Linked DNA regions of Homo sapiens. Changing the gene in region 2 together with the main gene of any one other region gives a genetic interaction. Each region holds a gene or a part of one and is shown on either strand. Other genes may lie near its edges.

Region 1 (4,259 bases), on a different chromosome or scaffold from region 2:
TAGCTGGGGTGGGGGATGATGTCCTTCAGGGTGCTGACCTTGGCGTCCTCGGAGTAGGAGTCTAGCTGGTGGGCCCCCAGCTTGACCTCATAGGCTTCCTTGTGGTGCTCGCTGCAGGCAGGGGGCAAAGGCTGAGACCCAGGAGACCTCTCCTTGTTCCCCAACCCCCACTGCCAACCCCTGATTCCGATCAGCCCCTTTTAGGTCTCAAATTGCACCTTAGTTTTATCATGTAACCTCTGACCCCTCACCTTCACTCCTAACTGGTCCTTCCAGACTTAGAACTGACACTCTCAGACCCAACCCAAGAACCCCAACCTCTGACCTGGATTGACCCATTAACTTTGACCTCCAGCCCACTTTTGACTTTCACCATTTGGTACCTGGGGAAGCAGTGAGCAGCTGACAGCACCCACTGCTCAGACACGAGAGAGCCACCACACACATGGACGCCTTCATAGGTGATGCTGACCTGCCAGGGCCACTGACCGGCGACTGCACTGCTGCCACCTGTGATGCGTGCTTGGGGGGCCACACCGCAGGGAGCTGCCCAGGGAGGAAGGGAAGGGGTCAGGTTGTTAGCCTGGCCACTCCTATGCAGCCCAGGAGCTCTGATATAGAGCTTGGGAAGTGGGTTCACAGGAGTCAACACCCCTTTGTCCCCTCCCAGGCATGGGCAGTTGTGCCCCTTCTGTCCACTACCCATTACCTAATTCAGGTCTCATGGCAGCTTCTCTCCTTGCAAGCCTTCCATCCATCCCGCCCCTTACAAGTCTGAAGATTTTCATAAACCCCCAATCTGACCAGGCCACAGCCCTGCTTAAACCCTTCTTGGCTCCACGCGGTCCTTAAGATACATTCCAGACAGACCATGGCACCGCCATCGGACCCAGCCGTCCCCTCTGGACCCTTCAGTTGTGTACATCAGGCCACACACTTGTTTACCCGGGACCTTGGCTGATCCAGGTCACTCTACCTGGTATGCCCTTCCCCATCCTTACTGTCTGGCAAACTTCCCTTTGCCTGTGGATGCTTGATTGGAACAGCAGCCCCTCCGTAGACAGGCGGGCTTCTGCTGGCTGAGTTGGGCATTGCCTCCGAGCCCAGCACCCCCCAACCTCCACCATGCTCCCCGATGCTGCCCAGTCTCACAATTGTTCCGGAGTCCACAACTGTGTCTGTTTCCACCACACCAATCTGGGCATTCCCTAGGGGCAGATTCTCATGTCTGCAGTGCCTGTGGCGTCGTGGACATATATTCAACAAACCAACAGCAGAACTGGGCTCCTGTGATGTGAATGTCTAGTTTCCAGGACAGCCCCAGCCCCACCCCCATTGAGGCCACTTTGGAGTGGAGCCCAACTGCTCTTCACAAAGTCATCTAGGAGCAGAGAAAATTGCAGACCAGATCTTTCTCTCCCTTATCATCATGACAATAGCCACTATTTAGAGAGCCTAGCGGCTGTGCCAGGCCCTGGAGGGGCTTTCGCTTCCTCATCTCCCTGCATCCTCTCCACAGCCCCAGGAGACGGACATGACCAGCTTCATTTTAGAGGTGAGGAGTCTAAGGCTTAGAGAAGTGGGGGGACTTGGCCAATGACACACAGCCAGTGCATGGGGAAGCCAGGATTGAAAGCCGGTCTGACTCAGAGCTGGGTTGGGTGCCTTCCAAGAAAGGAGACCCTTGGTTTGGTTCCCTCAAAACCACCTCCAGGATGGGAACGGTGGCTCACACCTGTAATCCCAGCACTTTGAGAGGCCAAGGCAGGAGGATCGCTTGAGCCCAGGAGTTCAAGACCTGCCCGGCCAACATAGTGAGACCCACATCTCTACCAAACAAAAACAAAAACAAAAACAAAACACAACTAGCTGGGTGTGATGGCATGCACCTGTAGTCCCAGCCACTAGGGAGGCTGAGGTGGGGAGGTGGGAGGATCACGTGAGCCCGGGAGGCTGGATCACTGAGACTGCAGTGAGCTGCGATCGGGCCACTGCACTCCAGCCTGGGTGACGACAGACCCAGACCCTGTTTCAAAAGACAAAAACCAAACCAAAAAAACCACCTCGATTGCCCCACTTTGGGAGTCAGACGTGGATCTGAATCCCAGCTGCACCTTCACTGGCAGTGTGCCCTGGGCAAGTCCCTGCTTCTCTGCCCATAAGGTGAGGGCTAAAACCCCCCACTCTGGGAGCCCTAAGAGAATCTAGTTGGAAGGCAGCCCAGCTGAAGGCCAGGCACTGGTTAAACCCCAGGGGAATCCGATCCAAGTCACCTCCCCCTCCCCTCCTCCCTCTCCGAGGAAAGTCTCACCTTCTGCCCCTTCCGCTCCTAGAAAGAAAGAGAAAGAGGAGGGGTGAGTAGGGAAGACTCGGGTTCCCTGACCCCTTAGTACCCACCACTGCTCCAGAGGGCTGGCCCCTTCCCTGACAGAGCCAAGGTGGGAAAGAGAGGCCAAGAGCTAGGGAGGCCGGGGGTTTTCTTGGGCCCCAGACAAGGGCACACCCCAGAAAATGATCACGCCGGCTCCCTCCAGTGCATTGTCCCCACCCTGCCCCCACGTCCTCACTTACCTGTCCCCGACCGGAGTAATCCAAGATAGAGCAGAATGGCCACAGCCCCCAGCTGCCCAGGCCCCAGGACCCCCTTCTGGGCCATGGCCCAGGACAAGGGCCCCTGGGGCAGACTCCAGGCACGCAAGGTAGGAAGCCTTGGGGTGGTGTCGAAGGCAGGACCCAGATGTTGGCTCAGAGGGAAGGATCCCAGAATCCGGGCTGGAAAGGGGCAGCAAGTGTCCAAGGCTGGCCTCTAAGGCAGGGAGCGGCCGCAACGGGAGACGCCTGGAGTATCCGAAGCGAGCAGTGTGGACGAGTCACCAGCACCGTCTGGCCACGCAGGGTCCTCCCAGGAGTGGCTGCACCTACCTGCCCGCCCCTCCCCTGGCCCCGCCCACTGGCTGGGCTCCGCCAGCTCCTCTTGCCACCAAAGTCATGAGTCCTTTCAGAGCTGCAGGCCCGTGTGTGTGCATGTATGTGTCCGTGTGTATGTGTGTGCACATGCATAGGCCTTTTGTGTGTGTGTCCCGGTGTGTAGTGTGTATGTGGTGTGTGTGTATGCCTGTGTAGGCTGTGTGTGTCCTCTTATGTGGTGTGGTATGTGTGTGTGTGTGCATGTACAGGCTGTATGTGCACATGTGTAGGCTGTGTGTGTCCCTGTGTGTGTAGTGTGTGTGTCTGAGTGTGCGTGCATGCACGTGCATGTGGTTTGTGTGTGTGTGCAGTCTCCCTGGAATGTGACGACTCTCCTCCGCCTCAGGTCTTTCAGGTTATCTCAGGCCAGTTATGCCCCCCAGGGCCTGGCCCCAGCTTTTATTATCTGGAGCCACAGCCACTCCTCCCTTCTTCCCTCCCTCCTTAGGCTGGTTATGGGAGCTTAAGACACTATGGTCTGTCCCCTGCCAGGCCCTTTCTGCGATGCCTGCACCTCATGGGTGGTGGCGAGCTTGTGGAGCAGCACCAATCATCCCACAGACATTTCCTAAGTGCCTATGATGTTCCCAGGTGTCCAGGACAAAACAGGCACCAGCCCCGTCCCCCTTGAGCCCTGAGCTCATGGTGAAGTAGGGGTGACACACTTCAATCAAATAATCACAAACAGGCTGGCAAGGTGGCTAGTCGGCTTTGGGAGGCTGAGGCTGGAGCATCACTTGAAGCCAGGAGTTCCAGACCAGCCTGGGGAATATAGCGAGGCCTCATCTCTACAAAGAAATATAAAAATTAGGCAGGCATTGTGGCGCATGCCTATGGTTCCAGCTATTTGGGAGGCTGAGGCAGGAGGATTGCTTGAGCCCAGGAGTTCAACGAAGCATTGAGCTATGATCACGCCACTGCACTCCAGCCTGGGCAACAGAGGGAGACCCTGTCTTAAAAAAAAAAATTGCAATTACACAATAATTTCAAGCTAGGAATAGTGATGAAAAAGAATGGCGTGAGCACACCACAGCCTGGCAAAGGCTGGCATTGTGAAAGGGTCCTCGAGGAATTGCCTTGGAAACTGAGACCGAAAGGGATTATAAAAGGTGGTAAGGCGAAGATGGGGGGATGGGGTGCAGAGGGCAGAGGCTCAGGGAAAGAAGGCTTGCCGTGTGGCTGCGGTGGGAGTGAGGCATGTATCCTCCTTGAGGGCCACTCTGGCCGTTCAAAACACCTGTTGAGGCTGGGTGTGGTGGCTCACGCCTCTAATCTCGGCACTTTGGGAGGCC
Region 2 (3,647 bases):
TATATTTTTCATTCAGATACACAGTAGATCTTAAATATAGAAAGTTTTTGTTTACTTAAATCTATTTGGAAGTTTATATTTGAGCTAATAATTAAGCTGGAGCATGTATAATAGATTTAAATTGTTTTGACTGTTAGTGAAATTTCTAGATGAAGGCAATAAAAATTTTTTCACTCATCTTTTTCTGGCATTTTGTCTTCTATACCTGTACTGTCCAGTGTGGTAACCACTAGCCACATGTGGCTATTTGAACTCAATTACAAAATATTCAGAATTTACTTAGTCATACTAGATATATTTCAAGTGCTGAATAATCACATGTGGCTAGTGGCTACCATATTGGACAGCACATAGAAAACATTCTATCACTGGAGAAAGTTTTAGACAGTGCTGAGCCAGACATTTGTTGAAATATTACTGTGGCCCTTTTTTATTTTCAGATTGGAGTTTTAATTATCTGTGAAGGAGTTAAGAGTTCTTGCTTGGGTCAAGTGTTTGCAAAGAAGATTCTTTAAATTCTGTAGCTCTCAAATTTTGAGTTATCTGCACATTAGTTTACAATCCATGTAGTTATATGCATTATCATATATAGAAATTAGGAATGTGGGCACTGGAGTCAAACTGTTTGCTTACCCTATTTCTACCTCTTATTAGTTGTGTGAATTAGGGCAAATTACTTAATCTCTGAGGCTCTGATTTTTGCCCCATAAAGAGGGGATTAAACTATTGTTTATCTTATTTAAAGTTCACGGCTGGGCTTGTTGGATCCTGTTTGTAATCCCAGCACTTTGAGAGGCTGAGGAAGGAGGATCACTTGAACTCAAAAGTTGGAGACCAGTTTAGGCAGCATAGTGAGACTTTGTCTGTAATTTATAAAAAATAAAATTTAAAAAAAATTTGAGGATTGAGATGCTTCATGTAAAGGGCTTAAAATATTTTCTGAGATAATGAGCACTGAATATTTGCTTATTGTAACCAGCATGTTTTGTGTAACACAGGATACTATATAAAAAAAACATTAATTACAGTGATGGAGACATGGGGGTGGACAAGAAACAGGAAAGTTTTGGCAATTAGGAAGATTAAGAAAAAATGTTAGATAGAAAACTAAATAGTGGTATTTGTATTTGATCTGAAACTTGGACTTTTCTTTTTCTTTTTTTTTTTTTGAGACAGAGTCTTGCTCTGTCGCCCAGGCTGGAGTGCAGTGGTGTGATCCCGGCTCACTGCAACCTCCACCTCCCAGGCTCAAGTGTTTCTCCTACCTCAGCCTCCGGAGTAGCTGGGATTACAGGCGCTAGCCACCACTCCCAGCTAATTTTTGTATTTTTTTTGTAGAGATGGGGTTTCGCCACATTGGCCAGGCTGGTCTCGAACTCCTGGCCTCAAGTGATCCACCTGCCTCGAGCTCCCAAAGTGCTGAGATTATAGGCATGAGCCACCACGCCAGGCCTGACACTTGGAATTTTCTGACCTTGCTAGTTATACTTTAGTTTATCAGCTTTCATACATACTGTTTGGATAAGCAAGAACATCATAGAGAATAAAATAAGGAACAGTTATGGAAAGCAGCATTATTACTTGAACAAGTATTGGTCTAGGAGTTATACAACCTGAGTTGATGCTATCTCTGCATTAATTAAAACTCATATGATTGCCTCAACTCTAAGGATTGAACTGATATTGAAGTTTCATTTTAATTAATTACAAAGTGCATCGTAAAGTTTCAAACAGTAAAGTTTTACTAGAATCACCAGAGTTGAGGTTTAATTAAAAGACTTTTGAATCTGAGCTTTGATTCAAATCTCTATAGGTATGTTGACTACTGACTATAGTTAAGTAAATAGAAGAGTCATATTGTCCACCCACAATTTTTTTTTTCTTTTCTTTTCTTTTGAGACAGGGCCTCACTCTGTCACCCAGGCTGGAGTACAGTTGTGTAGTCTCAGCTCACTGCAGCCTCTGCCTCCACCTCCTGGGCTCAAACGATTCTCCCACCTCAGCATCCTGAAAGGCGTGCATGCCACCACACTCAGCTAATTTTAAAATTTTTTGTAGAGATGAGGTCTCACCATATTGCCTCAGCTGGTCTTGAACTCATGGGCTCAAGCAGTCCTCCCACCTTGGCCTCCCAAAGTGTTGGGATTACAGGTGTGAGCTGCCACACCCGGCCTCACATTTTCTTATTCATAGTTGGAATGGAATGGTTAGTAGGTAGAAATACCTAGAGGAAACAAAGGAACCAAACTATTCATAAAATAGGAGATAAGACTCGAGAGTAAATCTTCTAGTTGGATATGCAGACAGATCATGTGCTGGTATATTCTGACTACTTACCTGTTCCAATATTTTATATATTTTTCTGCCATATCTAAAGCGAGGAGGAGTAATAAGTCCAATTTGATACTACAGGTGAAAAAAAATTAAACCTTGTGGCCGGGTGCGGTGGCTTACGCCTGTAATCCCAGCACTTTGGGAGGCCGAGCAGGCAGATCACCTGAGGTTGGGAGTTCGAGACCACCTTGACCAACATGGAGAAATCCTGTCTCTACCAAAAATACAAAATGAGCTGGGTGTGGTGGCCTGTAATCCCAGCTGCTCGCGAGGCTGAGGCAGGAGAATTGCTTGAACCCAGGAGGCAGACGGAGGTTGCAGTGAGCCGGAGATTGCGCGATTGCACTCCAGCCTGGGAAACAAGTGAAACTCCGTCTCAAAAAAAAAAAAAAAATTAAACCTTGCGAAATCAAATTTAAGGAATCTTTTACAATGCATACTCATCTTAAATAATTGCAAAGCATATTTCTTTAATTATTCGGAGTTGTTAATTCTGCTATACAGGTTTTGTGTGCTTCTGAAAAGTGTGGTTATCAAGTTATCTAGTTTTTACAACTGCCTTGGAGTTTATCAGGAGAGAGACCTTCTTTTTTGCCTTCATTTTCTTTCTTACCGCTGCTATACTATGCTCTACTGTCATTAACACTCAATTCCCACTCCCTTCCCCAGAAGCTTTTGTCATAAGACATTACAAAGAAGGGAGATTGTGCCTAGTTAAAAGACTGAGGAGGTGAACTTTAGAGGTAGAGGGATTTTCTTGCAAAAAAAACTAAAGTTTCTATAACTATGAATATTAATATAGAGTAATTTTTTTTCTTTTTTTTGAGCCAGAGTCTTGCTCTGTCGCCCAGGCTGCAGTGCAGCGGTATGACCTCGGCTCACTGCATCCTCCGCCTACCGAGTTCAAGCAATTTTCCTGCCTCAGCCTCCCGAGTAGCTGGGACTACAGGCATGCACCACTGCATCCAGCTAATTTTTGTATTTTTAGCAGAGACGGTGTTTCGTCATGTTGGCCAGGCTGGTCTCGAACTCCTGACCTCAGGTGATCTGCCCGCCTTGGCCTCCCAAAGCACTGGGGATTACAGGCATGAGCCACCGTGCCTGGCCCCTAATATAATTAGATTAGAAATATACTTTGTTTCTAAAGTTGATATTCATTGTAAGTAGCTTTTTAAAGTAAATTTTGGTTTTTTAGTGGCTAGAATTCTATAATGTATTTTTGCTTCAAAATTTCCTTTTTCTTTTGTGAAAGTTTATTAAACGGAATAGAATTAAGAAAGAATTCATTTGGCATTTGCAGGTTACAGTTAGCT
Region 3 (3,647 bases), on a different chromosome or scaffold from region 2:
CAAAATGGGGGGAATCTAGGATGCAGGGGCTTCACCCAGCCTGATGGCCCCAAAGAACGTGGTGTGCTTGCTCATGTTGATGGAGATGTCAGCGTGCACCATCTTGACGGCGATCTTCTGCCGGGCCTTGAGGAGGCAGACGCCTGCGGTATAGCAAGTGTTGTAGTTGGTCTTGCCCGTCTCGATGCTGCGTGTGCACTGCAGGAAGGGCTTCTCATCCACCACCACCTCATAGCTGGCAAAGTCAGTGAAGTTGATGTAGTATACCTGAGTGAGAGGCAACAAGAAGGGATTGGGGAAGAGAGGAAAGAGAGGGTGGGGGGCCCTCCCTGTGGTGAATTGACAGAATCTTCTCAGATGAGCTGTTAGTATACCCCATGGATGGGGCAGTGCCATGTGAAGGCGTGCTAGCTGGCCAACAGGAAAGGACAGGTGACAGGCATTGTTCTTCCCCTAGTCCATGGGGCTCAGCTGGCTGAGCAAACTTTTCTTACAACAGCACACTTGTCGCAAACTCTGTAAGGCTAAGAACCATGCCCTATTTGCAGCTTCACCGTGCCCCTGTTCCCCCGCCCACCCCTGCCCCAGCCCTGACATGAAGCAGAGTGCTCTGCACGTAGCAGGTGTGTACACAGTGCCGTGGACACAAACTGACTTCCATTCTTGAGCCCCACGGACTATTTGTGGAGAAACTTAGAAGTCACTGATTCCCCAGAGAGGGCATGTAACAACTTGTGATTTCTTGAGCTCCTTAACAGAAGCTTATTCAGCTTGCACCACCCCTCCCCTGGGCCTGGACTCCCCTCACTGATTCACAGTGCCCCTTGGGCCTCCCATCTGATGATTGAGGAAACAGGTCCAGAGAGATCGAGAGCTAGCTACCACAAACAAGACAAAGAATTTGGAAAAGCCCAGGCCCCTAACTTTGTGGCCAGAAGGAAGCACTAACTTATGCTCAGTGGCCTAATGTCATGGGGATTTTCCCAGCCTGCATGGGCCACTCTCAATTCTCTCCTAGGCTCAGAAAATTAATTTTTCCATCCTTCACTACCCTTATCCATCATACCTCACACCAAGTTTTGATCTGCCGCCCACCCCCACCACGTGGAACTTGGCTCACAGGACATCAGGGTTATGCCCATGTGCCCCATGGGTGTTGGGACTCTCAGATATCACCGTAAATCATTTTATGAAAGGTCACTCCCTCTATCAGCTCTTCAGGTGGGAACAGCATATTTGGGTGCCATATACGGGTCAGGACCCAAGCTACAGCGGGGTGCTCAGTGTGCCTAGCAGATGCTTGTTAGCCCACCTTCTCTGGCCGCTCTCATGTGACACCCATCTGTTGGCTCCATAGTCCTTCTGTCCACCTGCCTGCTTGCTGCCCATCCCACAAAAATCCCAACCTCATGGCTCATCTTCCTTTATCTCCAAGGAGCCACTCCCATGGAGGCAAACAATGGGGGAACGGAAGTAGATGGACACTGGTGGACTTGGGGAGCGGGCCCAGGGCAGGAAGAGGACAAAAGCAGAGGGAGAAAGGGCTGGGAGAATGACAGCAGGAAGGAGGCAAGAATAGAGGAATAGAAAGATAGGGAAACAAATGGGAGAAAGAGGAAGGAAAGACAGTCAGAAATCTTTTTGAGGTGGAAAGAAAGTCTGCAGGAGCACTATTCATTACAACGTCCGAGCCAGCAGTGTTGAGGGAAAGGGTTCTCAGTAACCCTGGAACTGACTTTCAAAGAATGTACTGAGACCAAGTTCAAGTTTGGCAGTGCAGCCAAACAGCTCAGAGGGTAAACAGGGGCCTGAGGCCCTGCAGGAGGGAATCAGATGGCAGGGTGTGGGAGGGGTCTTTTTCACAGTTTTTCAATAATATTTGGCTAAGGAAAAACAAAACAAAACAAAACAAAAGAAGCTGGCCCCCTCTCTCTTTCCTCCTTTCAACTCCCTCCCAGTGCGGTCCCCCCACCCCCTCACCCAAAGCAGGAAGTTAGCCATTGGATGGTCTTGGCTGGCTCCACAGTGCCCCTATGTGGCCTGCACCGGATCTGCATTCTGGATATAAGAAGAGTTAGGCCTAAGACCGTACTCACTTCTACCTGACTATAGATGAAGTAGGTGCCGTCCACCAGTACCTCCAGCTCCCCGCTGCGGGGATGTAGCTTAAACACCTTGGGGTTCATAGTGATGCGAGACCAGTCATTGAGCACTCCACCTGAAAGATCTCAGTATGAGAGAAGGGCAGTCACTCAGTACATGTCAGAATAATCGAGGCAACAGAAAATAAATACCAAGGAGTTCACAACCCCCACCCCTATCCCAGTGCAACCAGGGTAGCCTAGAAGGCCAAACTTTAAGAAGAGCATTTGAAAGCAGAGAAGCTGTTCTGTTTGTAAAGCAGCTGCCAGGCCTGCTTCAGGGCTCCTGGGCTCTGCCTGTCTGTCTTTATCCTTCCTTTCTTGACCCTTGCATCTGGAAGGGTCTTTAACCAATACCTTCTAGCTGGAATTTGCCGGTGGAGGATGAGAGTGGGCATGCTGCCCTATTTTCTTTGTTGTTATGGGGCCTGCACAGGCAAAATTCAGACACTGAGTGGCAGGCTAGGTCTTATTATTCAATTTTACTTTCCCAGCCAGAGCTCCTGAATCCCTCTCATCTCATAGGTTCATGGGTTTTCTCTTTCTCCTTAAGAGATTCTTTTTTACGGTTCTTCCACACCCACAGCTTTCTGGAAAGCCTCCCTGGGAGGAAACCACTCAGCCCACTGTCTATCTGGAGAACCTTAGGGATTAGAGATGATTCAGACTCCATGGTAACTGGGGCTACTGACCACTAGTACCAGGGCCCCATAGGTGAGAGGGATCCTTATGAGAGTGAAGGATAGACTGGCAGGCTGCAATAGAGCCAGCTGGGAGGATAGGAGCCGAGCCACCCTTGGCAAAGCATCTGTCTCAGCCCCACCCCAGGCAGGGGTGGAGGGGGCAGTCACACTCCTTTGGACAGCGGAAGCCAGTGTGTGAGGATGGAGGAAAAACTTCTCTTTCCATCCTGCAGAAAGAGGAATGTTCCTTCCCACCATGAGAGGAGGACATCCAAGCCCAGGGAGCCTTTTCCCCTCTAAGCCATCCATCCTGCACCCAAGAAATTATATTTTATAAGTCCATCTTTGGCCAGTTTCAGTAGGCCTGCCTGTCTGAGGGGTGAGGAAACAGCCTTTCTGGAAAAGGTGACCATCTTTCCTTGAGGTGGTAAGTAGATGGGCTAGGAGCTGCCCTGGCTCTGTCCCATCAATGGACCACTCTGCATGACGTCCTCCAACCCCTGACCCCATCACTTCTTCTTCTTTTTTTTTTTTTTCTGAGATGGACTGTCACTCACTCTGTCACCAAGGCTGGAGTGCAGTGGTGTGATCTTGGCTCACTGCAACCTCCACCTCCCGGGTTCAAGTGATTCTCCTGCCTCAGCCTCCCGAGCAGCTGGGATTACAGGTGTGTGCCACTATGCCCAGCTAATTTTTGTATTTTTTGTGGAGACGGGGTTTCACCATGTTGGCCAGGCTGGTCTCAAACTTTTGGCCTCATGTGATCCGCCAGCCTCGGCCTCCCAAAGTGCTGGGATTACAGGTGTGAGTCACTGCACCCCAC

What was found.
Region 1: changes in CHD1 (region 2) and PRSS8 together harm fitness less than expected from each alone (positive genetic interaction), as found in Homo sapiens cells (one large-scale study listed by BioGRID).
Region 3: changes in CHD1 (region 2) and EDA together harm fitness less than expected from each alone (positive genetic interaction), as found in Homo sapiens cells (one large-scale study listed by BioGRID).

What each region holds. Positions count from the first base shown.
Region 1 is NC_000016.10:31,132,843-31,137,101, forward strand, and holds the start of PRSS8 (prostasin preproprotein), read right to left. Parts: upstream 2,886-4,259; 5' UTR 2,657-2,885; coding exon 2,572-2,656; intron 2,330-2,571; coding exon 2,312-2,329; intron 547-2,311; coding exon 384-546; intron 112-383; coding exon 1-111.
Region 2 is NC_000005.10:98,922,500-98,926,146, reverse strand, and holds part of CHD1 (chromodomain-helicase-DNA-binding protein 1), read left to right. Parts: intron 1-3,647. UniProt on the Homo sapiens protein: ATP-dependent chromatin-remodeling factor which functions as substrate recognition component of the transcription regulatory histone acetylation (HAT) complex SAGA. Regulates polymerase II transcription.
Region 3 is NC_000023.11:70,031,978-70,035,624, reverse strand, and holds part of EDA (ectodysplasin-A), read right to left. Parts: intron 2,228-3,647; coding exon 2,097-2,227; intron 1,545-2,096; coding exon of another isoform or gene 1,425-1,544; exon of another isoform or gene 579-1,424; intron 268-578; coding exon 16-267; 3' UTR 1-15. UniProt on the Homo sapiens protein: Cytokine which is involved in epithelial-mesenchymal signaling during morphogenesis of ectodermal organs. Functions as a ligand activating the DEATH-domain containing receptors EDAR and EDA2R. May also play a role in cell adhesion.